Linked DNA regions of Homo sapiens: all the other regions are linked to region 3. The links come from fine-mapping of genetic effects on gene expression. A gene starts in region 3. Each other region holds a variant in brackets. All regions are shown on one strand. Distances are from middle to middle. Region 1 has its middle 8.8 kb from the start of DES. Region 2 overlaps DES (desmin). Region 3 holds the start of DNPEP (aspartyl aminopeptidase).

Region 1 (11,109 bases), 21 kb before region 3:
GTACAACTATCCCCACCATCCATCTGCAGAACTTTTTCATTGTCCCAAGCTGAAACTCCATATGTATTAAAAATAACCCTCCACCTTCCCCTCCTCCCAGCCCCTGGTAAACATCATTCTACTTTCCGTTTCTACGAATTTGACTCTAGGTACTTCATGCAAGTGGAATCATACCATATTTGTCCTTTTGTGACTGGCTTACTTCCCTTAGCATAACGTCTTCAAGGTTCATCCATGTTGTGACATGGGTCAGAATTTCCTTTCTTTTTAAGGCTAAATAATATTCCATTGTATGTATACACCACACTTTGTTTATCTGTTGATGAATATTTGGGTTGTTTCCAACTTTTGGTTATTGTGAATAATGTCGCTATGAACTTTGGTGTACAAATATCTGTTCAAATACTTATGTTCAGTTCTTTTCTGTAGATACTCAGAAGTGGAACTGCTATGTTATATGGTAATGCTATGTCTAAATTTTTGAGGAACTGCCATGCTGTTTTCCGCAGCAGCTGCACTGTTTTACATTGCTACCAGCAGTGAACATGGGTTCCAATTTCTCCACATCCTGGCTAACACTTGCTATTTTCTATTTGTTTATTTGTTTTATAATATTAATAGTAGCCTTCCTAATGGATGTGAGGTGGTACCTCATTGTGGTTTGTTTGTTTTGTTTTGTTTTTTAGAGACAGGGCCTCTGTCACGCAGGCTGGAGTGCAATGGCACGATCATCACTCACTGCAGCCTCAAATTCCTGGACTGAAGTGATCCTCCTGCCTCAGCCTCCCAAGTACCTAGGACTACAGGTGCAAGCCACCATACCTGGCTAGTTTTTTTACTTTTCCATAGAGATGAGGTCTCCAAACCTATGTTGCCCAGGCTGGTCTCAAATTCCTGGGGTCAAGTGATGTTTCCACCTCAGCCTCTCACAGTGCTGGGATTATAGTTGTAAGCCTCCACACCCAGCCTTATTTCATTTTTTAAAGATAGGGTCTCACTCTGTTGCCCAGGCTGGAGTGCAATGGCATGATCATACCTCACTGAGGACTTAAACTCCTGGTCTCAAGCGATCTTCCTGCCTCAGTCTCCTAAAGTGCTGGGATTATGGAAGCAAGCCACCACACCTGGCTGCTCATTGTGGTTTTGATTTGCGTTTCCCTAATGATCAGTGATGTTGAGCATCTTTTCATGCGCTTACTGGTAATCTGTATATCTTCTTTGGCAAAATGTCTTCAAATCCTTTGCCCATTTTTGAATTGGGTTGTTTGGGGATTTTTTGTTGTTGAGTTGCAGGAGTTCTTTATATACTCTGGATATTAATCCCTTATCAGATATATGATTTGCAAATATTTTCTCCCATTCTGTGGTTTGCCTTTTCACTCTGTTGATAATGTCCTTTGATGAACAAAAGTTTGTAATTGTGATCAAGTCCTATTTATCTATTTTTTATTTTATTGCCTATGCTTTTGGTGTCATATTCAATAAATCATCGCCAAATCCAATGTCATGAAGATTTTCCTCTTTGTTTTCTTCTAAGAATTTTATATTTTAGCTCTTATGTTTAGGTATCATGTCTGTTTGTTGTTGTTGTTGTTGTTGAAACAGGGTCTTGCTCTGTTACCCAGGCTGGATTACAGTGGTGCCATCATAGCTCACTGCAACCTCAAACTCCTGGGATCAAGCGATCCTTCCACCTCGGTCTCCCAAAGTGCCAAAATTACAGGCATGAGCCAATGTGGGCCTGGCTGTTTTATCCATTTTGAGTTAATTTCTATGTATGGTATAAGGTAAGAGTCCAGCTTTGTTTTTTTGCATGTGGATATCCAGTTTCTCAGCACCATTTGTTGAAAAGACTACCCTTTCCCCCACTGAATGGTCTGGGCACCTGGGATGAAAATAATTTAACCACGTGTGAGGGTTTATTTCTGGGCTCTCTATTATATTCTGTTGGTCTGTATGTCTGTCTTTATGCTGGTACCACACACTGTTTTGATAACTGTACCTTTGTAGTAAATTTTGAGCTCAGAAAATGTGAGTTCTCCATCTTTGTTCTTTTTCAAAAATTTGTGGCTATTTGAGGTCTCTTGAAATTCCTTATGAATTTTAGGATGGATTTTTCTATTTCTGCAAAAATGTTGGTGAGATTTTGATAGGCATTATACTGAATCTATAGATCACTTTGAGTAGTAATGGTATTCTTAACAATATTAAGTGTTCCAGTTCATGAACATGAGATGTCTTTCCATTTATTTTTGTCTTCTTTGATTTATTTCAATAATATTTTATAATTTTCAGTGTACAAGTCTTGTGCCTCATTATTTATGTTTATTGCTAAGTATTTTATTATTTTTAATGCTATTATAAATGCAGTTGTTTTCATTTATCATTGAGATGATCATGTGGGGTTTTTCTTCATTCTGTCAATGTGAAGTATGACACTGATTGACTTTTATATATTGAACTATCCTTGCATTCCAGGAATAAATCCCACCTGATTATAGTGTGTAATCCTTTAAATTTGCTGCTGAATTTGGTTTGCTAGTATTTTGTTATGAGTTTTACATCAATATTTATAAGGGATATTGGTCTGTAGTTTTCCTGTAGTGTCTTTGTTTGGCTTTGGTATGAGGATAATGTTGGCCTCATAGAATGAGCTAGAAAGTGGCTGGGCACAGTAGCTCATGCCTGTAAACCCAGCACTTTGGGAGGCCGAGGGAGGCAGATCAGGAGGTCAAGAGTTCGAGACCAGCCTGACCAACATAGTGAAACCCCATCTCTACTAAAAATACAAAAATTAGCTGGGTGTAGTGGCACACGCCTGTAATCCCAGCTACTTGGGAGACTGGGGCAGGAGAATCACTTGAACCCGGGAGGCGGAGGTTGCAGTGAGCTGAGATCGTACCACTGCATTCCAGCCTGGGCGACAGGGCGAGACTCTGTCTCAAAAAAAAAAAAAAAAGAATGAGCTAGAAAGTATTCCTTTCTCTTCTAATTTTTGGAAGAGTTTGAGGACTGGTGTTAGGTTTTTTGTTTGTTTGTTTGTTTGTTTTGAGACAGTGTCTCACTCTGTCACCCAGGCTGAAGTGCAGTGGTGTGATCATGGCTTACTGTAGTCTCAACCTCCGGGGCTCAAGTAACCCTCTCACCCTCCCACCTCAGCCTCCCTAGTAGCTGGGACCAGAGGCGTGTGCCACCATACCTGGCAAACTTTGTAATTTTTTTGTAGACAGGGAGTCTCCCTATGTTGCCCCAGGCTGATCTCAAACTCTTGGGCTCAAGTGATCCTCCCACCTTGGCTTTTCAAACTGTTGGGATTACAGGTGTGAGCCACCATGCCCAGCCTGGTGTTAGTTCTTTGTTTCTTAGAACTCACCAGTTAAGCCATCTGGTCCTGCACTTTTCTTTGTTGTGGGGTTTTGAGTCATTTTTCTTAGTGTCTTTGTATTTCACTGTATAGACTTGGTATAATTTATTTGGCCAGTTCCTTATTGATAGACATTTATGTTGTTCCAGTGTTTTGCTATTATAAGCAATGCTGCTGTGAACATCTTCAGGACACCTTTGAACACAAATTTTGGTACTTTTTTTTTTTGAGACGGGTTTTGCTCTTGTTGCCCAGTCTGGAGTGTAATGTGCGATCTCGGCTTACCACAACCTCTGCCTCCCAGGTTCAAGCGATTCTCCTGCCTCAGCCTCCTGAGTAGCTGGGAATACAGGCATGCGCCATCACGCCCGGCTAATTTTGTATTTTTAGTAGAGATGGGGTTTCTCCATGTTGGTCAGGCTGGTCTTGAACTCCCGACCTCAGGTGATCCACCTGCCTCAGCCTCCCAAAGTGCTGGGATTGTAGGCGTGAGCCACCATGCCCGGCCACTTTTTTAAAAAAAAAACATAAAAGTCACAGTATTTAGTAGTCAGGCCTCTTCCTTAATTGATATTGGAAATGGAAAGGTCCACCAGGACAGATGATTTCATTCAGCATTTACCAGAAAAGGGGACAATTTATAAATTTGTGTATGTGGGATGGTGCCTTGCACAGTGGGTACTGACAATAACTTTTGTTAAATGAATTAAGGAAATAAGTTAGTCCTGCTCTCCGTTTGAAATATTTCCAGATTAAGCCGGGCGTGGTGGCTCACGCCTGTAATCCCAGCACTTTGGGAGGCCGAGGCAGGCGGATCACGAGGTCAGGAGCTCAAGACCATCCTGGCTAACACAGTGAATCCCCGTGTCTACTAAAAATAAAAAAATTAGCCAGACATGGTGGTGGGCACCTGTAGTCCCAGCTACTCGCGAGGCTGAGACAGGAGAATGGCATGAACCCGCGAGGCTGAGCTTGCAGTGAGCCGAGATTGCGCCACTGCACTCCAGTCTGGGTGACAGAGCGAGACTCCGTCTCAAAAAAAAAAACCAAAAAACAAAAAAGAAATATTTCCAGATTATTCAAACCTCAGAGTTTTAGAAGCTTACAGTTGGACCTCAGCAGGTCATGAGGCTGACCAGTCTCATGCTCCCACTTCTCACTGAAGTCCGAAGTCTTCTTTACTGTGGCTCCAGCAAGCACTTGATCAGCTTGAATCCCTCCAGTCCCTGGGAACTTACTGTCTCTGGGCAGCACATTCCATTCCCGAAGAGTCCCTGAGTACCTAACATGTCTGCACCGCAGCTCTGCTGTTAGAAAACCTTTCCTTGGCCGGGTGCGGTGGCTCACACCTGTAAACCTGACACTTTGGGAGGCCGAGGAGGGCGGATCACCTGAAGTCAGGAGTTTGAGACCAGCCTGGCCAACATGGCAAAACCCCGTCTCTACTAAAAATACAAAAATTAGCCAGGTGTAGTGGCA[C/T]GGGCCTGTAATCCCAGCTACTTGAGAAGCTGAGGCAGGAGAATCACTTGAACCTGGCGGGTGGAGGTTGCAGAGAGCCGAGATCACACCACTTCACTCCATCCTGGGCTAAACAGCAAAACTCTGTGTCAAAATTAAAAAAAAAAAAGAAAAGAAAAGAAAAGAAAGAAAACGTTTCCTGATACTCAAAGCCAGATGACATGTCTCTGCTATGCCACATATTCTAACCTGGGAGCCAAGCAGAGCAAGAACCCCCCTTTCACAGATCTACCCTGCAAACATTTGGGGGCAGTGTTCATGCCTTTTGGAACGTTGCCTGTTTTGCCACTCCCAGCTTCTCTCCTTTCCCTGACCTATTGAACCAGCAAGACCCAAACTTGTCATGGCCTCTGAGGGCCCCACAGGACTGGCCCTGCCCACCTCGTCAACTGCAGGTCACTCACCTCTCCTTCAGACTCCCCTTGCTTCAGCCTCCTTTCTGTTGGGTGAGGCTGCCCAGCTCTCTCCAGCCTCCAGACCTTGGCCTTTGCTGTTCCCTGCTGTCCCCCGAGCGCAATGTCTGGAGGGCTTCAGGATGCCCCGGCAGATCTCTGAACCTCACAGAGGGCTCTCTGGAAAATAAGGGCCCTGGCTCTACCTAGGAGCCCCCAGATTTCATGAATGGCATGGATGGAGGACAGGTGGCTAGTATGGGCGGATAGCTGAGGTGGCTTGGCCAGCATAGGGCATTTGGATTAGGAAAAACTGAAAGAACTCAAAAAGGAGAGAACTGGCCCTTTACCCGGTCTGAGAGAGCCTCACTTGCCCTGGGATTCCAGGTATGAGGCAGTGTTAATTCCTCCTGCGGTGCACCCTCCCTCCGTGGACTAATACCCACCCACAGGGGCACCTTCCACTCCTTCCAGGGCCCCTCTTCTCTCTCTTTTTTTCCAGCTGGGGACCTCATGCTTCCACCCTGAGCTGGGTTGGGCCAGGAGGCAGCCATTGCATGAGAGAGCCTTGGGAACAGCATGGCAAGGATGAACTCTGGGGACCTAGGCCCTCATCATCAACTGTAGCACTGGGTCATTGACAGGGGGGTGAGAAGGTGGTGGCAAAAGGCACAAGCTTAGGGGTTGGGGGTAGAGTGGTCAATTGGAGGCGAAGATACAGGTGGACACCCTGGGGATTCACCAGCTGACCACCTGGGCTACCTGGGCAAGTCCCTGGCCTCGGCCCTGTTGTGATCCCAGTGTGAGGGGACAAGGCCAAGTCACCTCTGGAGTCCCCTCAACTTCTGACAGCCTGAGACTCTGGGCCCCAGCAGGGGGTGGTCTCAGCTGAGTTTTTTCCTGGGACTCACTGTCTAATGTCCCCTGGCCTCCCTGTCCAGAGCCCCTCCCTCCAGCAGCCCCCTCCCATGCATCCCCATCCCCTCCATCCACCTTCCCCCAGCTGGAGCAGCTGCTTGACCTCCACAGGCTGCTGAGGAGCTGGAGTGACTGTAAAAGGGAAGGAATGTCCAGAGGCGGCTGTTTCTCCCTGATATCACCCGGGGGGAGGCTGGAGAGTTGGGGGCCCAGCCGGGATGGCGTCAGGATTCTCCCTGAAACTCATCCCTCTCCTGCTGCGCTGCCTCCTCCCCAGGCTCAGCCAGCAATCCACCCCCCTCCCATCGGCCACGCTCCACATCTCTTTGGCTTAAGACATTCGGGCCATATCTTCCCTCTCCTAACTTTTTCCACCTCCAGCCCCCAGACCCTCTCCTGGGCCCCTTCCTTCACTGGCACCCCCACCCCAATTCTCATCAACCCCTCCTTCATCGTCCTCGTCACCCCCACACCCCGACCTTGCTCCTTCTCCAAGGAGGGCCCCACAGCCCCGACTCCTGCCCCTCCTGCCCCACGCTCCTTTTACAGACACAGAGTGCTGTGGACTTTCTGCCAAAGTAGGACAAGTCTGGGGCTAATCTCACCTCCTCCCCAGCCCCCAACTTCTCCCACCAAATAGGACAGCTCAGCCCAGGAAGGAGGCTAGGAGGAGAAGGAGGCTGGGCCTCAAGGGGGAAGAGCTCATGAGATGATGGAGATGAAAGGGCTTTGTGGACTCTCAGTACCCTGTAAACTTCAGGTGTTATTCACCCAGTAAGAGATGACAGGGAGGAGAGGATGGGACGGAAGGGTGGACGGAAGGGAAGGGGGCTTTGGTAGCATTAAGAAAGGTCCCAGGACAGCACAGTGGCTCATGCCTGTAATCCCAGCACTTTGGGAGGTTGAGGCAGAAACATTGCTTGAGCCCAAGAGTTCAAGATCAGCTTGGGCAACAAAGTGAGACCTTGTCTCTACAAATTTTTTTAAAACAATTAACCAGGTATGGTGCTGCATACCTGGAGTCCACTGCACAAGGGAGGCTGAGGCAGGAGGATTGCCTGAGCCCAGAAGGTCAAGGCTGCAGCGAGCTATGACTGAGCCACTGCTCTCCAGCCTGAGTGACAGAGAAAGATCCTGTCTCTAAAAGAAAAAAAAGAAAACACCTCAGGGAAGGCTTCCGGATGCATTGGGAGCACATGGCTGAACTGGGGACCTGTCCTGGACCAGCTCTGAGACAAGCTGTGTGACATTGGACTGGTCACCTCCCCGTTCTGGGTCTGGGTTTATCCTTGCTTAAAGTGAAATATCCTTGGACATACCTCCCTACTCTGACCCCAAAGAGAGGGGTGAAAGAGGTCTGTTTTCTTTTTTTTTTTTTCCCTTTTTTTCCTGAGACAAAGTTTCACTCTTGTTGCCCAGGCTGGAGTTCAATGTTGCAATCTCCGCTCACTGCAACCTCCACCTCCCAGGTTCAAGCGATTCTCTTGCCTCAGCCTCCCAAGTAGCTGGGATTACAGGTGCCCCCTCACCACACCCGGCTAATTTTTATATTTTAGTGGAGACAGGGTTTCACCATGTTGGCCAGGCTGGTCTGGAACTCCTGACCTCAAGTGATCTACCTGCCTCGGCCTCCCAAAGTGCTGGGATTACAGGCGTGAGCCACTGCACCTGGGCCCCTTCTTTCTTTTTTATATTTCAACCTAGATGAAGAAAAGGGGTTGCACCCCTTCCTTGGAATTCTCTGTTGGGATCTCAGTGCCATCACTCCATTCTCTCTTCTTCCTGATTCATCCCCATTCCTTTCATCTTGCCTCATAGGCTTTTTTGGTTCAGCCTCTCCAGTTTGGTCAGATCCCTGCCCTCCTGGGCCCCTTCCAGGTTTCCTACATCCCTCTGAGGCTGTGAGGCTTTAAACAGGGCCTGAGCAGGCTGGCAATGACCTCACAGGGCCACTATGCACAGCTTCTATTTATAGCCTTATAGGCTCATCCTCCTCTTCCTCCAACCAGCTGAGTCACGGTCAGCTTGGGGTCCACTCAGACCCCAGGGCCTTCTCTGCCACTCCAGATCCCAGTCCACCACGGCACCCTGAACTGTTCTTGCCGCTGTGCTGGATGCTTTATTCTCTGAACCATCCAAGTACACAATGAAGATGAGTGTTGGGTTCTACACAACACCCTTTTTTGGGCCCTCAGCATTGTATGTTCTTATAGCCCAGCCCATCATCCTTCTGTCTTCTCACGTCTGCCAGATAGGCAGCCCATGACCTCAATTCCACTGGACTCTGCAGAGGTGTGGGCAAGGGGAGGAATTTGAGAAGCATCTGATAGGCCATGGCCAGAGTTCAGATCCTGGATCTCCCACTCTTGGGTTAGTTTCCTCACCTCTCTGAGCCTGTTTCCTCACCTGTGAAATGGTAATTACAGCATAGGGTTGTTGGGAAGATTAAACGAGAAACTTGTCTGCAAAGCACTTAGCACAGTGCCCAGCACACTTCGAGTGCTCAGTAAGTGCCAGCCATCATGAGTATTTTTTGTATCCCCTTTTGACCAATAAGGAAACTGGTTCAGTGGGAGCCAAGGACTTGCTCAAGTCCTTGCTTCAGGTCAGCAGGTCAAGGCCAAGATTGAGAGCCAGGACTGCCTGACTCCAAAGCACTAGCTCTTCCTATGGGCTATGGTGCCTCTGAGAATAACACAGCCACCACTCACTGAGCATCTACTGTATACCAGGCACAGTATTATGGATAGCTACCACATGGAATCACTGTATCTCTAATCCTTACAACACTGAAGTAACTCTTATCCCCATTTTACAGCGGTGGATACTAGCCTCAGAGAGGTTAGGTAAGTTTCCTAAGGTTGCACAGCAAGTAAAAAGCAAAGCCTGGATTAACCCTAGTCAGTGTCTCCTAGAAGTCCTGCTTATTTCTCTGTGTGGTCTCCAAGGCCTTACCACATATTGATTTGGCAGACACAGCCCTCGGCTCATCCCCTTTTAACTCGGCCCCATCGGGGACTCTCCATGGAAAAAGCCCCTTGTCCAGCATTGGACAAGTCCCTCCTAACATTCTGCTCTGCTCCTCTTCCCAAAACCCTTGCCCTCCAGAAACGGTCTAGGCATGGAGGGGGAGGCTGTCAGGGAGTCAGGCCCCACTGACAGAGGAGTCCGAACTTTAGCCTACAGGAAAGGCGGGTGGGGAGGACACTGGAAATTTTTCATCTGAAGGATAAAGAATCCAGTGGGGGCCCTTCTGCCCCATGCCACTCACAGGCCAGCCAGGCACGGGGCTCCTCACAGGCTGCAGAGGCTCCCCTCAGTCCACCCTGGCCCCAGACTGCCCCCAACCGGCCTGGGAGCAGCCTCGCGTAGCAGCATCCACACCTCTGTCCTGGAGAGGCTGCCAGGAGGACTGAGACCAAAGTCCAGGCTTGATCTGTGGCCTCAAGTTTCCAAAAAGATTCCGGGGTCCACTGCCAGCCCCTGGGGATTCCCACTGCCCAAGCTCGTGAGTGCCAGATGCTCCCAGAGCGCATCAGGAGTGTCCCAGATACATTTCCCTTCCCAACTAAAGATCCCCAGAGTTACAATTTGCTGAAAGCAGAGTGCTGGCCTTCTTTCTTCCCACCCACAGCAGTCAGAACGGTATACCCCAACCATCCCAAAGGGCCCTCCTAATGCCCCCACCTCATCCGGCCTCAAAGAGATGGGGCAGGTGCTCCCTCTGCCCTCTCCCAGGTGCCCCAGCCACCCTGGATACCAGAATAGACCACTGACCGCCTGCCCTTGGGGCTGGGAGGGGCCACAGCCGGTGCTGCCACTCAGGCTGGGAGAGGGATCGGGCAGAGAGGAGCGGACAGGCTGGTGCTGGGACTGAGAGGGCGCTGGAGGGCCCCAGGCTGTTTCCAGCAGCTCCTCTGTGCTGTGCAGTGAGCTCTCCCACCAACACCCTACAAGCAAGAGTGCCCCCCACTCCCCAGCCAGAAAAGGGCTTGGAGCTCCAGACACCAGCTCAGAATTGGGCTGAATCTAGGCTCCAACTTCTCCCAAGCTCTCCTTTTCTCCTCTGGGGCTCCACCCCAGCCCCAGCCCCGTCTAAGTGAGGAGGCCCTTATTTGGTGACCCCACATTCTAGCTTTTTGGTGTTGAGAGGGCTTCCGGCCTGGACTAGGATCCCTGCCCCCACCCCTAGGTCCCAGGCTGCTTCTCCTGGTCTTCCAGCTGCTGGTCCTGGGCAGTTCCCTTCTTGGACACCTCTCCCAAGCCCAGGCCCGATTTAGCTCCTTTAATCTTGCCAGTAACCCAATCCGGCCATTTCCTGAGCACACGCTGCACTTCCCAAATGGCCCTTCCCTGGAGAGTGGCTGGGGCAGAGTGGCCTCAGCTCTTCCCTGGACTGAAGCACCCCCACCCTCCTGCCCCAACATTCTACTCCTCTCTTTTTCCCCACCCCTAGGAGGCCCCAGGGCGCTCTGGCTCTGCAAGACTCTGTTCTGCTGTCCCGGCCTCTAAGTAGCCCAGGCCTGAGGCCCGAGCCCCCATTTCCAAGCCCAGCCCAAATCCTCACCTGGTGCTTTCCCGCTTCCCAGCCTTTGCTGAGCTTTTCCTGTGCCTGGAACACCCTCACCTTCACAGGGCATTTCTTATTTTTTTTCAAGATGGAGTCTCGCTCTATTGCCCAGGCTGGAGTGCAGGGGCGCAATCTCAGCTCACTGCAACCTCTGCCTCCCGGGTTCAAGCAATTCTCCTGCCTCAGGCTACCTAGTAGTAGGGATTACTGCCACCCACGTCCAGCTAATTTTTATATTTTTGTAGAGACGGAGTTTTGCCATGCTGGCCAGGCTGGTCTCGAACTCCTGACCTTAGATGATCAGCCTGCCTCTGCCTCCCAAAGTGCTAGGATCACAGGCGTGAGCC
Region 2 (5,891 bases), 34 kb before region 3:
TACTAAAAATACAAAAATTAGGGGGGCGTGGTGGCACATGCCTGTAATCCCAGCTACTCAGGAGGCTGAGGCAGGAGAATTGCTTGAACCTGGGAGGCGGAGGTTGCGGTGAGCCGAGATTGCACCACTGCACTCCAGCCTGGGCGACAGAGCGAGACTCCGTTTCAAAAGAAAAAAAAAATTCAGATGAGCAACTTGATGTCTTAAAGTGAGACAGAGCAGGAATAAGGCACTGACTCATTGTGCTGATGCTCAGTCACTTGCCATTCTGTGCCTCAGTTTCCTCACTGAGGACACGGAGTGAAGTGGTACCAACCTTATCATGGCCACAAAGCTATTGATTTGGAAAAGCACTGTGCAATGTGGGTGGAGTTTTTTGTACTATGAAGTTTTAAATGCAAGACTCATACTTGGTGTCTGTATAAACAACTAACTGAAAAGAGAGGCTCTGAGTTGTGTAGGAAAGGTCAAATGGAGGTCCTTGGTATTATGAGTTTGGTGCTTACGAATTTCCTTAGCTAGCAACCAGCCTGTGATGAATGTTGTGACTCGCTGGAGCGCAGCGTGTTTTTTTTCCTGATGGAAATGTACATCGAAGATAGAAAAGGTTTGATCTAGGAAAGGAGAAGCTGCCAAGGACTCCGACTTGCTTTCCTAATGCATCATTATCGTGTGTTTCTCTGCTCTCTGGGGTTGGAAAGCCACCCGATCTGCGTATTACTAATGTCAAAATGGCAGAGTGCCCTAAGAGCTCGTTCTTTTCATTGTTTGGCTTTGCTAAGATTTGGCATTTTTTTCCAAACGTGCATCCAACATCTTGCTCCAGCAAACTGGAGGTGTTCGACAAGCAGCCAAGGTGGGGCTTGGCAATGTGCCAAACAGACAATGGGCTGTGGGTGTCTTAGAGGGCAGGTGGTATGAGATGCTCCTGAAGCCAGGTCCCCAAGGACACTCCTGCTTTCAGAGTTTGGGATTCAGAACAGAGGCTGCTTCCTGAGGCCCAATACTCCAAGAAGGTGCAGGGGACATGGTAAATACAATACAATATAATCACATAAAAAGCTCTCTCTGTCATAAGTTGCCTCATCCACCTCTACCTAAACTCCCCCACCTACCCGCAGTGGTCCCCTTTTTCTTCCCCAGACTCCAGGTCTGTCCCTAGCCCCAGGGTCCCATCCTCCCTCCTGGCTGGCCTTGGGCAGTGCCCATGCTGGACTCCTGGCCCCTGCAACTCCAGCCTCCGCCTGCCAGCAGACACTCACCTCGGAAGTTGAGGGCAGAGTAGGTCTGGATGGGGAGATTGATCCTAAAAGGGAAGAGACAAAACCTCCTAAGAGTTAAGAACCCTCCCATCGGCCGGGCCCAGCTGTAATCCCAGCACTTTGAAAGGCCGAGGCGGGCGGATCACCAGGTCAGGAGATCGAGACCATCCTGGCTAACACAGTGAAACCCCGTCTCTACTAAAAATACAAAAAATTAGCCGGGCATGGTGGCGGGCACCTGTAGTTCCAGATACTCAGGAGGGTGAGGCAGGAGAATGGTGCGAACCCAGGAGGTGGAGCTTGCAGTGAGCGGAGATTGCACCACTGCACTCCAGCCTGGGGGACAGAACAAGACCCTGTCTCAAAAAAAAAAAAAAAAGAACCCTCCCATCTTTCCCTGAGACCGCCCATCAAGGCTCACCCTGGTCCTTTCTAAACACCATCCTCAGCTGTCCCAGTCCCACGGACCCCAGCACTCCCACCACCCATACTGCTCAAGGAATGGGGTCGAAGGCCAGCTAGAGCTGTCCCAGGAATAGTCTCTTCTGGAAGGATCATTATTTCAACTGTGAACTGCTGGCACGACACTAGGATGTGCAACCCCACCGCGCCCTCCAGAGCACCAGGATTTCCTTCTTGCTCCTGGCACTGAAGTTGGTACTAGTAGCAGCTGTGGGTGATATCCATTGCTCATGCCCACCCTCCAGCCAGGCCAGTTCTGAGAGCTTACTATTTAGGCCTAATGCTGGGAAAATGCAACATGCCTTTAGCTACCTTCAAAGGCCATCATATGTAGACGTGATTTTACAAAATCTGAAGTTTCTCTTTATGTTTGTACCTGTATCTAAACATGTCTGCTCCTTTTTAAAAATTTCAGATATTATTTTTATGAGTATCAAGGGGTACCAGTTTTTGGAGTAACTGATCTGTTTTAAATTGAGGTTAAATTTACATACAGTGAAATGCACAGATCTTTAATGTACAATTCAATGAGTTTTGATCAATGTCCACGTCTGTGTAACTACCAGTCCAAATCAAGATATAGAACATTTCTAGGCCAGGCACAGTGGCTCATGCCTATAATCCCAGCACTTTGGGAGGCTGAGGCAGGCGAATTACTTGAGGTCAGGAGTTAGAGTCCAGCCTGACCAACATGGTGAAACCTCATCTCTACTAAAAATACAAAAAATCAGCTGAGTGTGTTGGCACACGCCTGTAATCCCAGCTACTAGGGAGGCTGAGACAGGAGAACCGCTTGAGCCTGGGAGGCAGAGGTTGCAGTGAGCTGAGATCACACCACTGCACTCCAGCCTGGGTGACAGAGCAAGACTCTGTCTCAAAAAAAAAAAAAAAAAAAGATATAGAACATTTCTGTTATCCCACAAGGTTCCCTGGTGTCCCTTTCCAGTTGTATGTTGTTTTCTGTGTCTAGAGGTGGGTTGCTCTGAGCATGACGTCTGTGTCTTTTCCTCCGAACATGTGCATATGCTGACATGTGTG[CATGTGTGT/T]GCAAACTCATGCCTTCTGTATGCATCTCTTTACCTTCTCTTAGCCTATCCCTGTGCAAGGCTTCTCTCCCTCCCTCTCTCTATTTGCCTCTATCTGCTCCCTCCGTTTCCCTCCTCATCACTCCCCATTCTGCTTTCATCTCTCCCTTGACTGGCAGTAATATTTTATTATTGGTTGCTGAATATGGTTTTTTTTGCTGCTGGTTCTTAATTCTGAAGGTGGATAAGGGAATACTTATATTTCTCTTTTTATAAATGCTGTTAATTAAATTGCTTTTTACCCAGGTGGCCTTGGTTAATTCTCTGCAATTAATAGAGCAGTGGCCTCTTGTATAAAATTGTTTCCACGCCGGGTGCGGTGGCTCACGCCTGTAATCCCAGTACTTTGGGAGGCTGAGGTAGGCAGATCACCTGAGGTCAGGAGTTCGAGACCAGCTGCCCAACATAGTGAAACCCCGTCTCTACTAAAAATACAAAAATTAGCCAGGCGTGGTGGTAGGCGCCTGTAATCCCAGCTGCTCGGGAAGCTGAGGCAGGAGAATTGCTTGAACCCAGGAGGCGGAGGTTGCAGTGAGCCAAGATGGTGCCATTGCACTCCAGACTGGGCGACAAGAGCGAAACTCCATCTCAAAAAAAAAAAAAATTGTTTCCAGGTCTTGTTGAGGTAATCAGTAATCTCGAGCCTCCTGGGGACAGAAATGGACCACCCAGCACCCCGCACCTCCCACTCGGGCTCCTGCCTGGCCCCTCACCGGCTCTCCTCTCCCTCCAGCAGCTTCCGGTAGGTGGCAATCTCCACATCCAGGGCCATCTTCACGTTGAGCAGGTCCTGGTACTCGCGCAGATGGCGGGCCATCTCATCCTTGAGGTGCCGGATTTCCTCCTCCAGGCGCGCAATGTTGTCCTGGTAGCCACTGGCCTCACTGGCAAATCGGTCCTCCAATTCCCGCATCTGCCTCATCAGGGAATCGTTCTGCAGGAGAGGGGGAACCCAGGTCAAGGAAGGGAAGAGGACACTAGCAGCCCAAAGAAAGCTTTGGGGCTGGCAGGCAACTCCAGATGGTCAGGTCCAGGCCATGTTGAACCCTGAACTCAAATTAAGTCTATATGTGAACACTCAGAATAAAATAGATACAAAGGAACATTGCATTCAGCCTCACAGTCCCCACATAGGTAGATGCCCAGGAACCCCTGATTCCTTAGCATCCAACTGGAATCCACTTGTCTGGTTTTACCCCTATTGTAGATTTAAGTAGATGAAGGCCCAGAGAGGATCTATGATGGGCCCAAGGTCACAAAGTGAGGGTGTGAACTGCAGACAGGAAGGGGCAGGGCCTGGCCAGGTGGGCAGGGACTCACAGTGCCCTTCAGGGCGTCAATCTCGCAGGTGTAGGACTGGATCTGGTGTCGGTATTCCATCATCTCCTGCTTGGCCTGGCGCAGGGCGTCGTTGTTCTTGTTGGCTGCCTGGGTCAGGTCTGACACCTAAGGGCAGAGAAAGGGGCCCAAAAATGAGAAGGATGCAGGGCACGGGTAGGGATGAGCAAGGGAGCATGAAGCCTCTGGGCTCTCCTCCCATGGATGGTACCACAGGCAGCACATCCAAGCTGGGATTCAGGGGGACGGAGATGCCAGTCCCCGGGCGAGGCCACCCACCTTCGACTTGTACCACTCCTCAGCTTCAGAAATGTTCTTAGCCGCGATGGTCTCATACTGAGCCCGGATGTCCCTGAGGGCGGCAGTGAGGTCTGGCTTAGACATGTCCATCTCCACCTGGACCTGCTGTTCCTGAAGCTGAGCCTGCAACTCACGGATCTCCTGTAGGGCATGACTGGGCTTCAGTCCCCTCTCAGGGCCCACACAGCACCCTCACACCCCTATTCCCAGCCAGAGCCTCACCCCAACCCCACTTTCCGGCTGCTTTCCCCATGGCCCAGTGACCCCAGGAAGAGGGGCCAAGGTATACCTCTTCATGCACTTTCTTAAGGAACGCGATCTCCTCGTTGAGAGATTCAATTCTGCGCTCCAGGTCAATGCGAGCTAGAGTAGCTGCATCCACGTCCTGGGAGAGGCCAAGCGAGAAGGACATGGTCACCGCCACCCAGGTGGGGCAGAGCAAGGCCAGAGGCCATGCAAGGGGAAAAGAAGGGCACTCACCGCTCGGAAGGCAGCCAAATTGTTCTCTGCTTCTTCCTTCAACTGAATCTCCTCCTGCAGCCTGGGTGGGACAGACAGAAAGACAGACAGTTGCGGGTGATAAAGCTGGCAGTGGAAACGACTGGCCGGGGGCTGACCAGGGGGTGGGTCCAGGACAGAGCGGGAGGGCCTGGCTGCTGGGTAGAGGCAGGAGAGACAGGGAGTGGAGAGGCCCCACCCACCCAGGGAGGGCACAGGAAGTGGCCCAATCTCTGCCCAGGAGCCACACCCTTGAAGTCTATGTCCCCACCAGACTGTGTGACCTCCCTGGGGTTAGAAACTGTGTCTATTTTATCCACCTCTGTGTTTCTGGTTCCCAGCTCCAGCCTGGCCAATATAGCTGCTCAATTAATATTTATGACTTTGGTGGCAGGAGGGTGACTGTGCTCACTTGGCCTGTCAGAAGTGGGACCAACAAATATGCTACACTTGCTGCCCTTTTCGTTCTTGGAGCCTGGTGAAGTCTACAGTCAGGTCCTCCCAAGCTCTCTGAGAGCTGTGACCCCCACCTACTCCCTTTTTCTCCAGCCTGTCCATTCACCTTGTAAAAAGACACAGTCTCGGCAAGGCCCCAGGGCCAAGCTCCCCCCTCCCCCCACCTCCCCCAGGGCCTCATCACAGCTGAGCTGAGAGCTGTTGCTTGGACTCTGGGCCCTTGCCCTGCTTTCCCTGTCTCCTATCAGCCTCCCTTCTCCCTCTGGCTACACTGCCCTCTGGGCCTCCTGCAGCCCTTCCTCTGCCCATCAACTACCTGACCCCATAAATATCGCCCCAGCATCTTAAAATGCTTTTTAACGGGGCTGTCCACAGGGCACCGGGTCCCCTAAATTCTCCCATATCCACCCCCTGATCTATGTCCCCAAGAAAACTCCTGTGCAAGATGGGATCGCAGGGGGAGAGACCTGGAGGTCACGGCCCCTTGAAA
Region 3 (11,109 bases):
CGTAAGCAAGAGGGGTGGAATCTTGTGCACAAGTGGAGAGGGTGGCCTTGGATAGGAGCACAGATGGTTCACCCACAGAAATGAGGACAGCAGAATATGGAGCTCAGATCCTGGTAGGAGCCTAGGCGTGGCAGCTTAAAACTTGCGGAAATTCTCTTTTGAAGGCTTCTATTTTCACAGTAAAATGGGAACCATGGTCCTCGGCTGAGAGTGGGGATGGAGGAAGACACTGGATGAAACTCTCCTCCAGGAAAGCAAAGAAGCAAATGGCCCAGGAGATGCAATAGGACCTCTGGGCAGTACAAAGAACACACTTAGGTTAGTGGTTGAGTTTAAAGCAAGCTTGTCCAGCTGGGTGTGGTGGCTCACACCTGTAATCCCAGCACTTTGGGAGGCCAAGGCAGATGGATCACTTGAGGTCAGGAGGTCGAGACCAGCCTGGCCAACATGGTGAAACCCTGTCTCTACTAAAAATACAGAAATTAGCCAGGCATGGTGGCTCATGCTTGTAATCACAGCTACTTGAGAGGCTGAGGCAGAAGAATCGCTTGAACCCAGGAGGCAGAGGTTGTGGTGAACTGAGATCATGCCACTGCACTCCAGCCTGGGCAACAGAGCAAGACTCTGTCTCAAAAAAACTAAAAAAAAAAGTAAGCTTGTCCAACCCACCACCTATGGACCACATGCAGCCCAGGACAGCTTTGAATGCAGCCCAACACATATTTGTAAACTTTCTTAAAACATTATGAGATTTTTTTGAAAGGTTTTTAGCTCATCAGTTATTGTTAGGGTTCGTGTATTTTATTTGTGGCCCAAGACTATTCTACTTCTTCCAATGTGGCCCAGGGAAGCCAAAAGACCGGACACCACTGGTTTAAAGTGAGACCAGGCAGCGCGGCTTGGATGTTTCTCCAGCCACACAGGTTGGAGCAGGGGAGGAGCTGGTTGCAGTCAGGGTTGGGGTTTTGCCAGGCAAGTCCGCAAATCTAGAGCAGGAACTTGAAGGTGTGTGCGAGGGAGTGAGCACAACAGTGGAATGTATGGCTCATCCTAGGTAGGAGAGTCATGAAGACAGGAGTGAGGAATAGGGAAAGGTAGGATCAATAGTTTGTAGTTCTAGGCTGGACGCGGTGGTTCACACGTGTAATCCCAGCACTTTGGGAGGCCAAGGTGGGTGGATCACCTGAGGTCAGGAGTTCAAGACCAGCCTGGCCAACATGGTGAAACCCTGTCTCTACTAAAAATACAAAAAATGAGCCAGGCATGGTGATGCGTGCTTGTAATCCCAGCTACTCAGGAGGCTGAGGCAGGAGAATCTCTGGAACCCAGGAAATGAAGGTTGCAGTAAGCCAAAATAGCGCCACTGCACTCCAGCCTGGACAACAGAGTGAGACTCCATCTCAAAAAAAAAAATTTAACTGGGTGTGGTAGAGGGCACCTATAATCCCAGCTACATGGGAGGCTGAGGCAGGAGAATCACTTGAACCCAGGAGGCGGAGATTGCAGTGAGCTGAGATGGTTGCCACTGCCCTCTAGCTTGGGCAACAGAGCGAGACTCCGTCTCAATAAAAAAAAAAAAAAAAGACATATGTATCTTATAAACTCACACTGAAGTGTATGTAACTGACTTCTATGTTCACGCAAAAGTATTTGCACTTTAATATGTGTTAAACCAAAAAGATGAATGAATAATGGTAGCATTGTAAACATCAGCCGAGATCTTCCAGGGAAGATTTTCTCAGAAGGCCAAGGGCAAGAACGATTCTCAGAAACTTTTTCTTTCTTGATCCCTAGTCATCCCTTGACTTTGCCACCTGAACTCCAAATCCATCACCATTCCCTTACCCAGAGGTGACCATTATCCTTCCAAACCTGTTTCTATCCATTTACATATGTATTTATATAACATCTAGAAATATAAATTTAGCTCATTGTGTGAGTTTTATCTAAAGGCCCTCACCTTACATTCTAGAAATTGCTTTTTTTTTTCACTCAACAGTATATTTGGAATTCTTTTCTGTAACAATTCCTAAAGACTGACCTTTTTTTTTTTTTTATGAACTGCTACACAGCACTTTAAAATACTGTGTCTCAAGCATTCAAATCATCTAGGAATCTTGTTAACATGCAGATGCTGATTCTATAACTCTAGGGTAAGCCCTGAGGTTCTGCATTTCTAAAAAGCTCCCAGATGTTATTGACATTGCTGGTCAACAGATCACACATTTAGTAGCAAAGATGTACAGTACGGGTGGAATAGTGTGCTGGGGCCAACTTGGACAAGCTCATGAGAACTGATTGTCAAATTTCCAGGAATTTGGTGAGCTTGTTGTTAAACACAGCAATCATTAAAAAAAACTAAATTATATACACTTACAATTAAATAAATTATATTACAGATAATGAAAACCAAAAATCCATCACCTTTCCAAACATTTTACTGCCTTCTTAAATCTATGCTGTTGATGTTATTTCTATCCATTGTGTCTGCATGGTGGAAATCTACATAATGGCATGCTTCCGCACAGCTCTTCCCAACTCCCTTCAGTGACATCATCTCGACAGCTTGAAATCGGCCACGGGGAACATTTACACCACAGAAATTTGGGTATAAAGGTCTGTGCAAACATACCCCCAAAGTTCAGGGAAGCTGAAAAGCCGACGAAAGAGGCTGACATATACAGTCTCTCAGAAAGAAACATTTCATAGGGACTTATGAATAGAGGCCATAGTTTCAGAGATGAAATGGTGGATTACCCTGCAAACCCAGGGCTTACATACCATAGGGAAACAATGTGTCAAACAATTGAAGTTGACCCCTCAGGCAAAGTCATGAATGCTATGTGAATCTGTCTAAGCGCAGGATTTATGGTAATAGTAGGTAAAGTAGAAAACTTAGAGTCATTCCTGGAACAGGTTGTTGAAAAGTCAACATGGCAGATTAGCTTCCCAGATGGAGTTGCTTTAGCCTCCAGAAAATGCTTGCATTACCCCAAGCCTTCTCCAACACTTGATATTACCCATCTTTTCCATTTTTGTTAATCTGCTCAATAAAAAGAAAAAGTATCTCATTTTTATTATTTATTAATTTTTTTTTTGAGTTGGAGTCTCGCACTTGTTGCCTGGGCTGGAGTGCAATGGCACGATCTCGGCTCACTGCAACCTCTGCCTCCCGGGTTCAAGCAGTTCTCCTGCCTCAGTCTCCTGAGTAGCTGGGATTACAAGTGCACACCACCATGTCCAGCTAATTTTTTGTATTTTTAGCCAGGCTAGTCTCAAACTCCTGACCTCGTGATCCACCCGCCTTTGCCTCCCAAAGTGCTGGGATTACAGGCATGAGCCACCACGCCCAACTGTTATCTCATTTTTAACTTGCATTTTCCTGTTTAAAGTGAGATTAGGTGTCTCATATGTTCATGACTAGAAATTTAACAATATTTCTTGCTCTTGTAAATATAGCCCTTTTACTTTTTTCTTTTTTACCCAAACCAAAAATGGTCAATAAGAACCTTTTTACTTTTATATTTTCTAGGTGATTATTGTACAAGAAAGTCAGTGTTTTTTAAATTAGGCTACCCTTCCTACCAGTTCTAATAATAGCTTGATCGTTTATTTTCTTGGGGATTCTAGATAATCATATAATCTATAAATAATGACCAATTTTACTTTTGCACATATAGAATTGTTAATTTTGTTTTGTGGTACTGGCTCTGACTACAGCTCCACATTGTCTAGCAGCAGTAATAGCTCATCAATGTCTCACTTCTGATTTGAATAGGAACACTTCTGTATTTCCCTCCCAAAATGCTGGGATGACAGGCGTGAGCCACCACTCCCGGCTCACTTTCTAAGTTATGCATTTTGGTGATGTTTGAATCTCTTACTCAAGCATGTACTCTTTTCTGTGATCAGAAAGAACATTAAAGGTGGTTCCTTATTCAGGTTGTCTCCTTCCCTTATACATTGTAGCCTTGTTTCGGCCCTTTCACTGTCCTCCTTGAATGTGTCCCCTCCCCAGGAGGTAGAGGACAAGAATGCTCTCTCCATGTCCTGCTCAGCATTGAGCTTTATACATAATTTTATTTATTTATTTATTGAGACAGAATCTCACTCTGTCGCCCAGGCTGGAGTGCAGTGGCACGATCTCAGCTCACTGCAACCTCCACCTCCCGGGTTCAAGCGATTCTCTTGCCTCAGCCTCCCAAGTAGCTGCTGGGATTACAGGCACGTGCCACTACACCCGGCTAATTTTTGTATTTTTTGTAGAGACGGGGTTTCACCATGTTGGTCAGACTGGTCACGAACTCCTGACCTCAAGTGATCTACCCGCCTCGGCCTCCCAAAGTGCTGGGATTACAGGCGTGAGCCACTGCGCCAGGCCCATAATGGTATTTCAACAAACGGTTAGGGAATGCCATGAATTTAAGCCAGCACCTAGTGGGTGAATTCTTGAAAACTCCCCTGCCATATCTACTAGTTTGAAGTGAGGGCTGCAGGACCTTTCCAGCCTCTCCCCATCCCACCCTGTCACTCCCCACCCCAGGTATATAAACGGCAGGTTGCTCCATAAACCTGTGATCTCTGGAATTTTGTTTGAACCCCTGGTAGCTGGGCCCTGTTTTGGATCTAGAGGCCACCAAGAGTCCTGATCAGTTCCTGCAGCTAGGAAGGTGCATGGGGTTTAAACGTGCTACTCACTACTCCTGACATGGGAATACTGGAACTGCCAATAATGTGGAATTTGTTTTTCTGTTGTTTTTAACAAATGGAAAGGGCACAGATATCAGAGTCAAATCCCAGATCCACCCAAACAGCTATGTGATCTTGGGCAAGTCAACTTCTGTGTCCCTTGTGGACCTCCCGTGTAACATAACACTTACCAAAGCGCATAGAAAAAGGTCCAGAAAAGATCTGAGAGAAGGCTGTAGGGTTGTTCCAGGCCTCTGCAATCAAACTGATGGAGTTCAAACCCCACCTGTGCCGTTTATTACCTCGACGGATCACTAGTCTCCGTATCTCAGCTTTCTCTGTTCATGCATAAACTGGGGACAGTAAGAGTACATAGTTGATGGGGCAGTTGTGAAGATTAAACGAGGTAACAGGCCAATCTTTATCATAAAGCTAAAGCTCACCGTGAGCGCCCCATGGACATTAGCCTTATTGCTTTTATTGTCACAAAGGTGGCTGTGGCGAGAGACAGCACTTTGTACCGTACCCGTCGGACCCGGTGAGCTGGAGGGGCGAGCTTTTTATTGGCCTCGAGGCCCGGGGCACGGGGAGGCGGGCCGTCCGCGGCTGTCCTAGCACCTCCGCGGCAGCAGAGGGCCCTGGCGGCGGCTGCGGGTCGCGCGGCGTGGGTGACGGGGGTGCAGGGCGGGGCCTAACGAGCAGCCCCCGCAGGGGCGGAGACGAGGGCGGGCCGGAGGCGGAGGCGCGGCCTGGAGAGGGATGGGGCGGAAGCGGGGCGGGCGGTGCAGCCTAGCGAGGGGCGGGGCGGACGAGGAAGCGTGACGAGCGGCGGGGCGGGTGGAGCAGCCTGGCGAGGAGCGGGGCGGGGTGGGCGGCACGGCCTGACAAGGGGCGGGGAGCGCAAGGAGGCCTGACGAAGGGCGGGGCGGAGCAAGGGCGGGGGCAGGGCGAGTAGTGGGGTACAGCGAGGGCCGGAGCGGATGGGGGAAACCTGGTGAGGGGCGGGACAAAGCGGGGAGGGCGGTGCAGCCTGGCGAGAGGCGGGGCGGACGAGGAAGCTTGACGAGGGGCGGGGCGGGCGGTGCAGCCCTGCGAGGGGCAGGGCGGGCGGTGCTTCCTGGCGAGGGGCGGGGCGGGGCGGGCGGTGCGGCCAAGCTAGGGGCGGGGCAAGGGCGGGGCAAGGCGGGTGGTGGTGCCCAGCGAGGGGCGGAGCGGACAGGGTAAGCCCGCCGAGGGGCGGGGCTGACCGAGGTGGGCGGGGCGGATGCCGAGGGGCGGGGAGAGGTGGGCGGGGAGGCCAAACATGGGGCGGGGCGGCGCGGCCGGGGAAGCGTGATGAAGGCCTACGAGTGCGGCGCGGCCTGAAGGGGCACGCGGGGGACCTGCAAAGCTAGTGAGGGGCGGGGCAGGCGGCGCGGTGGGGGCGGGCCGAGCCCGGAGGCCAGATGAGCGGACACAGCCCCACGCGCGGGGCCATGCAGGTAAGTGGCTCCCGACGGCCCCACTTGAATTTCGATCCCAGACCGGGTCCGGCGCCCTCCGGGGCCCAAGCTTAGCGCGGTGCTGCAGTGGGGCCGCCTGACCCAAAGCGAAACCGAAAGCCCCGCGGAGGGTGACCTGACGACTTTCCCGGGACTGGAAGGGGGAGTCCTGCGAGAGACTAGGTGGGTGCGAGAGAGGAGTCAGGGTGCTCCTTGGGGTACAGGGCTTTGGCTCCGGGCTGGGTACGCGCACGTGATGCAGGCCGCCTCAGAGTATGGGGCCCGCTTGGGATCCCGGAGTTTGGGAGCAGAACAGGATTTCCTAGCTGGGCAGGGACATGGGGGCGGGACTTAGGGAGTCGGGCTAAAGTTCGGATTAAGGGGCGGGCCTGGCTCATGATCCTGGGCCGGCGGGCTGAAGCTTTCAACGGAGTTTCAGCCCTGGGTTTGGGTCTCTCGGTGGGGACGGGCGGAAGCAGAGGTCTGTGCCTTAGAGTGGTCACTTCTGGGGGTGGGGATGGGAGAATCCTCGGAACCTGGGTGAAAGGTCAGGGGTCCCAGACCTTGTAAAAGTCTGAGCATCCCCCTCCCCTAGGTGGCCATGAACGGTAAGGCCCGCAAAGAGGCGGTGCAGACTGCGGCTAAGGAACTCCTCAAGTTCGTGAACCGGAGTCCCTCTCCTTTCCATGGTAAGCGGTGGCCAGGGCAAGGGAGGAGGGTGGAGGCTGATGCGCCCTTCACCAGCTTCCATCGCTGTGAGAGGGTGCTTTTCCCACAGCTGTGGCTGAATGCCGCAACCGCCTTCTCCAGGCTGGCTTCAGTGAACTCAAGGAGACTGAGAAATGGAATATTAAGCCCGAGAGCAAGGTACTGGGGGTGGGGTGGGGGTGGAAAGGCAGGTCCCTAGGCTGGTCTCCAAGCCCTGTGTGCCAGCTGAGTAATGCAACTCACACCCCTGTCTTTCCTCCCCTTCTCCTCAGTACTTCATGACCAGGAACTCCTCCACCATCATAGCTTTTGCTGTAGGGGGCCAGTACGTTCCTGGCAATGGCTTCAGCCTCATCGGGGCCCACACGGACAGCCCCTGCCTCCGGGTAAGGAACTCGGACGGTGTTGGGGTGGGAGGAGATGTCAGAGGGAGTACAGGGCAAAAGAGAACTAGGAGGTACAAACTGGGGCCTCTATCCCCTGGAGTAAGGGAGAAGGTAAACTTGTTGGCCCCTTCCTTCACACCTTGAGCCTTTCATGTGACACTAATATTCGCTGTCTGTTACTTATGAGTAGCCAAAGTCTCATCTCCACATATCGTCATGAAGCCTTCTCTGACTTCTCCATCTTTACACTCAGGTGAAACGTCGGTCTCGCCGCAGCCAGGTGGGCTTCCAGCAAGTCGGTGTGGAGACCTATGGTGGTGGGATCTGGAGCACCTGGTTTGACCGTGACCTGACTCTGGCTGGACGCGTCATTGTCAAGGTGGGAACCGAGGTTGGGGATGGCGGAGCCTCCTCAGAAGACTGACTGCCACACTCCTCAGGGTACCCGTGGGGAAGAGGGGTGGGGGCAGTCTGGTCAGAGGACCACCCTGCTTAGTCTGAGTGAAGTAAAGACTGACCACTGGGGTAGGAGGCACCCTGGGCTGACCTGGCCTGGCTGGCTGCAGTGCCCTACCTCAGGTCGGCTGGAGCAGCAGCTGGTGCACGTGGAGCGGCCCATTCTTCGCATCCCACACCTGGCCATCCATCTGCAGCGAAATATCAACGAGAACTTTGGGCCCAACACAGAGATGCATCTGTGAGACTGGGGCAGGGCTGCGGTGGCTGGGAGGGATGGAGAATGGTACCAGGTGATTATTACCTAATGGTAGCCATTAGGTCACATTTTACTCTTGGGACCCAGTTAATTTCTAAGGGTCCTCACAGCCTTGTGATTTGGGGAGTGGGCTGGGAATTGAAGGGCAGAGGCAGTTGCCCATCAGGAGGCACCTGAACTTATGGATGCCGCACTCAGCTGTGCCCTCCTCGCAATCCCCCCACAACCCACGTCTCCCCACAGAGTCCCCATTCTTGCCACAGCCATCCAGGAGGAGCTGGAGAAGGGGACTCCTGAGCCAGGGCCTCTCAATGCTGTGGTAAGAGAGTCTCCTGATCATGGGGAGGGCGGCAGAGTCCCCTGAGAAGTGGGGAGGAGAGGAGGAATGGACTCTTCCCAGCATCTTTCTGCTCTTCAGGATGAGCGGCACCATTCGGTCCTCATGTCCCTGCTCTGTGCCCATCTGGGGCTGAGCCCCAAGGACATAGTGGAGATGGAGCTCTGCCTTGCAGACACCCAGCCTGCGGTGAGGACTGGCTGTAGGAACCTGTGGGTGAAGGGCCTCCAGGATCCTGGCCACCCCTAGCCCGTCCTGCTGAAGCACCCATCACCTCCACCAAGCCCTCAGTAACTCTCATCCCCGTTTTTCCCAGTAGACACATCCCCCACTGCTTCTAGGGCGGTGGTTCTCAAAAAGACAAGTTCCCTACCCCAGACCTGCCCACTAGGACTATCTGGGAATTGGCCCTTTTTACAGATTCCCAAAGAGTTTCTTCTACAGGTGGGCCCTGTCTGCTTTGACCCACACTGACACTGAACTGCTTAGGGAAAGAGGCCTGGATGTGGCCATCTGTTCTCTGTCTCCCGGTTGCTGATGGTCAGAGATTGCTAAATCTTTGGATGCTGTGTCCTGCTTGAACACGTACTAAGTTTCTGTTTTTTGGCTGGTTTCCTCTGTTTACTTCTTTGGCCTTTTTGATGACAATTCAGCCCTTCCTTTTCTTGACCCACAGGAAGAGGTCAAGAGCTATTGGCCTCCACCCTTTTGTTCCTCAGCACCAACCCAGCCCCCTTCTCCAATCTCTGCTTGGTCCTGCCTAGCAAGGAATCCCAGCACTTTGGGAGGCTGAGGCGGGGGGAATCACATGAGGTCAGGAGTTCGAGACTAGCCTGACCACCATGGTGAAACCCTGTCTCTAATAAAAATACAAAAATTAGCTGGGCCTGGTGGTGCATGCCTGTAATCCCAGCTACTCAGGAGGCTGAGGCACGAGAATCCTTTGAACCCGGGAGGCGGAAGTTGCAGTGAGCCGAGATCGAGCCATTGCACTTCAGACTGGGCGACAAGAGCGAACCTTCATCTCAAAAAAAAGAAAAAACAAAATAGTGCCCTAAGCCAGGGGTCAGGGAGAGGTTGCGCAAGAAACCAAGGAGACCCTTGGGAGCAAAAGAAAGGTGAGTGGGGGTGGAGGGTTGAAGGTCGGGCTGACTGTCTTACCTCTCTAGGTCTTGGGTGGTGCCTATGATGAGTTCATCTTTGCTCCTCGGCTGGACAATCTGCACAGCTGCTTCTGTGCCCTGCAGGTGAGGAGCCGGGGCGCCCCAGGCAGCACATAACCACCAGCAGAGGTGGTATGTTTGGGGTCGGGGGAGCTGCCTAAAGCCCCAGCAGGTTGTGAGAGAGGGCCATTGTCTACCCGCTCAGTCTGCTGGTGCTGGATGGACCAGGAGGGGGCCCTAAATGTTGCAGCCTCAGCATCGCCACCTTTGGTCTCTGCCCTTGCACTATCAGGGTGTTGAGGCAAGAAGAAGGAGGAGAAGTTGTTTCAGGCACCATGGTCTCTTGTCCTAGCCTTGCTCCTGCTGCTTTTCCTGAAGTTAACAACCTCTGCCTCAGGGAAAGGCTTTATCATCCACAAGGCAGTATCATCCACCTCCTTCTGCTTCCTACGCCACTCCCCAGGCTTAAGACCCCAGCCTTCTCCCTGTTTCTTGGGATCTCAGTCAGGTAGCCTCTCTTCCTAGTCACCTTGATATTCCCCACCTTCTCTCCACCCTAGTCAGTTCCCTTTCTTTCTCTCCTCTTGCCCTTGATCTCCCTCTGCCTTTTTCTGCCTTTCCTTCCCTGTAATCCTGTGGCTGGAGATAGGCTTTGGGCTGTAATTGAGACCAGAGCTGGACCTGGGACCTGCATCTACTTCTGCAGGCAACCAGCCAGTCATGTCACCTTGATGGAGTCTGTCACCTCTTTGAACCTCAGTCTTTTCCCTGAGGCCAATCAGTTTATGTGATGTGTGTAGCCTTTTGGCTTTCCAGGACTCTCAGCTCTTCCTCTCTGTCCTCCACATCTTCTACTGCCTTTTGCATGGGAAGGTAGAGAACAACACCCAAAGGATGGTGTCTCCTGTCCCAGTTGAAAAGGTTTCTACCTAGCTATTGATCTGGCCAAAAAAAAAAAGAAAGAAAGAAAAAAAGAGAAAAAAAAGGTCCTCACCACACCTTAAAGGTTTCTACCTATGTAGCTATTTATTTGGCAAGAAAAAAAAGGTCCCCACCACACCCTCTGCCAGGCAGTGCCCTAATTGATAAAAGTCATGGCCATGGAAGGCAGACAGGGGAATGTGCACACCCAAGGTGCTGGTGGATGGGGGAGCGTGCACACCCAAGGTGCTGGTGGGCTGAGTTCCAGCAGAAGCAGGTTGGAGATGATGCTCTCATTTCCTTCCCTGAACCAGGCCTTGATAGATTCCTGTGCAGGCCCTGGCTCCCTGGCCACAGAGCCTCACGTGCGCATGGTCACACTCTATGACAACGAAGAGGTACGTGGAGGGTTCTGGGGAGGGTCACCTCTGCGGAGTCTTCCACAGCCAACTTGTTGTGCCAGGCATCCACCGTGAGCCAGGGCTCTTCTGGGGGCCCCAAGACAGGGGAGATGCTGCCTGTGCCTCCTTAGCACTTGGTGTCTCCTCTGACTCAACATAGATCTGCTTATTCGAGGGTGACCGTCTCTCCTGTATCTCTCTTTGTGCCACATGGTGAGCTTCTTCCTTTAGGACAGGGACTCTACCCAGCCCATCCTCGTAGCCCCAGGGCTCAGCACAGAGTAGGTCCTCATGATGCCTGCGTGTGT

Evidence for each region. PIP is the estimated chance that this variant, and not a neighbour inherited with it, causes the effect.
Region 1: its variant is the best candidate, but not a certain one, in a credible set for the expression of DNPEP in whole blood (Lepik 2017, PIP 0.78).
Region 2: its variant is the best candidate, but not a certain one, in a credible set for the expression of DNPEP in whole blood (TOPMed, PIP 0.74).

What each region holds. Positions count from the first base shown.
Region 1 is chr2:219,404,072-219,415,180 of GRCh38, reverse strand. No RefSeq gene overlaps it. Among named protein-coding and RNA genes, the nearest start is that of DES, 8.8 kb to the left of the region's middle. RefSeq lists an enhancer at 6,275-6,775. The variant C/T (reference allele first, on the strand shown) is at 4,844.
Region 2 is chr2:219,419,192-219,425,082 of GRCh38, reverse strand. It overlaps DES (desmin), which reads right to left. Exons shown (of 9, transcript NM_001927.4): 2 at 4,928-4,988; 3 at 4,737-4,832; 4 at 4,427-4,588; 5 at 4,130-4,255; 6 at 3,523-3,743; 7 at 1,263-1,306. Among named protein-coding and RNA genes, the nearest start is that of DES, 3.8 kb to the right of the region's middle. The variant CATGTGTGT/T (reference allele first, on the strand shown) is at 2,763.
Region 3 is chr2:219,382,820-219,393,928 of GRCh38, reverse strand. It overlaps DNPEP (aspartyl aminopeptidase), which reads left to right and starts at 6,017. Exons shown (of 15, transcript NM_012100.4): 1 at 6,017-6,170; 2 at 6,766-6,859; 3 at 6,949-7,037; 4 at 7,151-7,264; 5 at 7,518-7,643; 6 at 7,831-7,961; 7 at 8,223-8,298; 8 at 8,398-8,505; 9 at 9,486-9,563; 10 at 10,715-10,798. The coding sequence starts at 6,135. DNPEP-AS1 (DNPEP antisense RNA 1) reads right to left here and starts at 5,359. Exons shown (of 4, transcript NR_183823.1): 1 at 5,133-5,359; 2 at 4,881-5,042. RefSeq lists silencers at 5,216-5,365, 5,446-5,965, 5,986-6,225 and an enhancer at 6,490-7,336.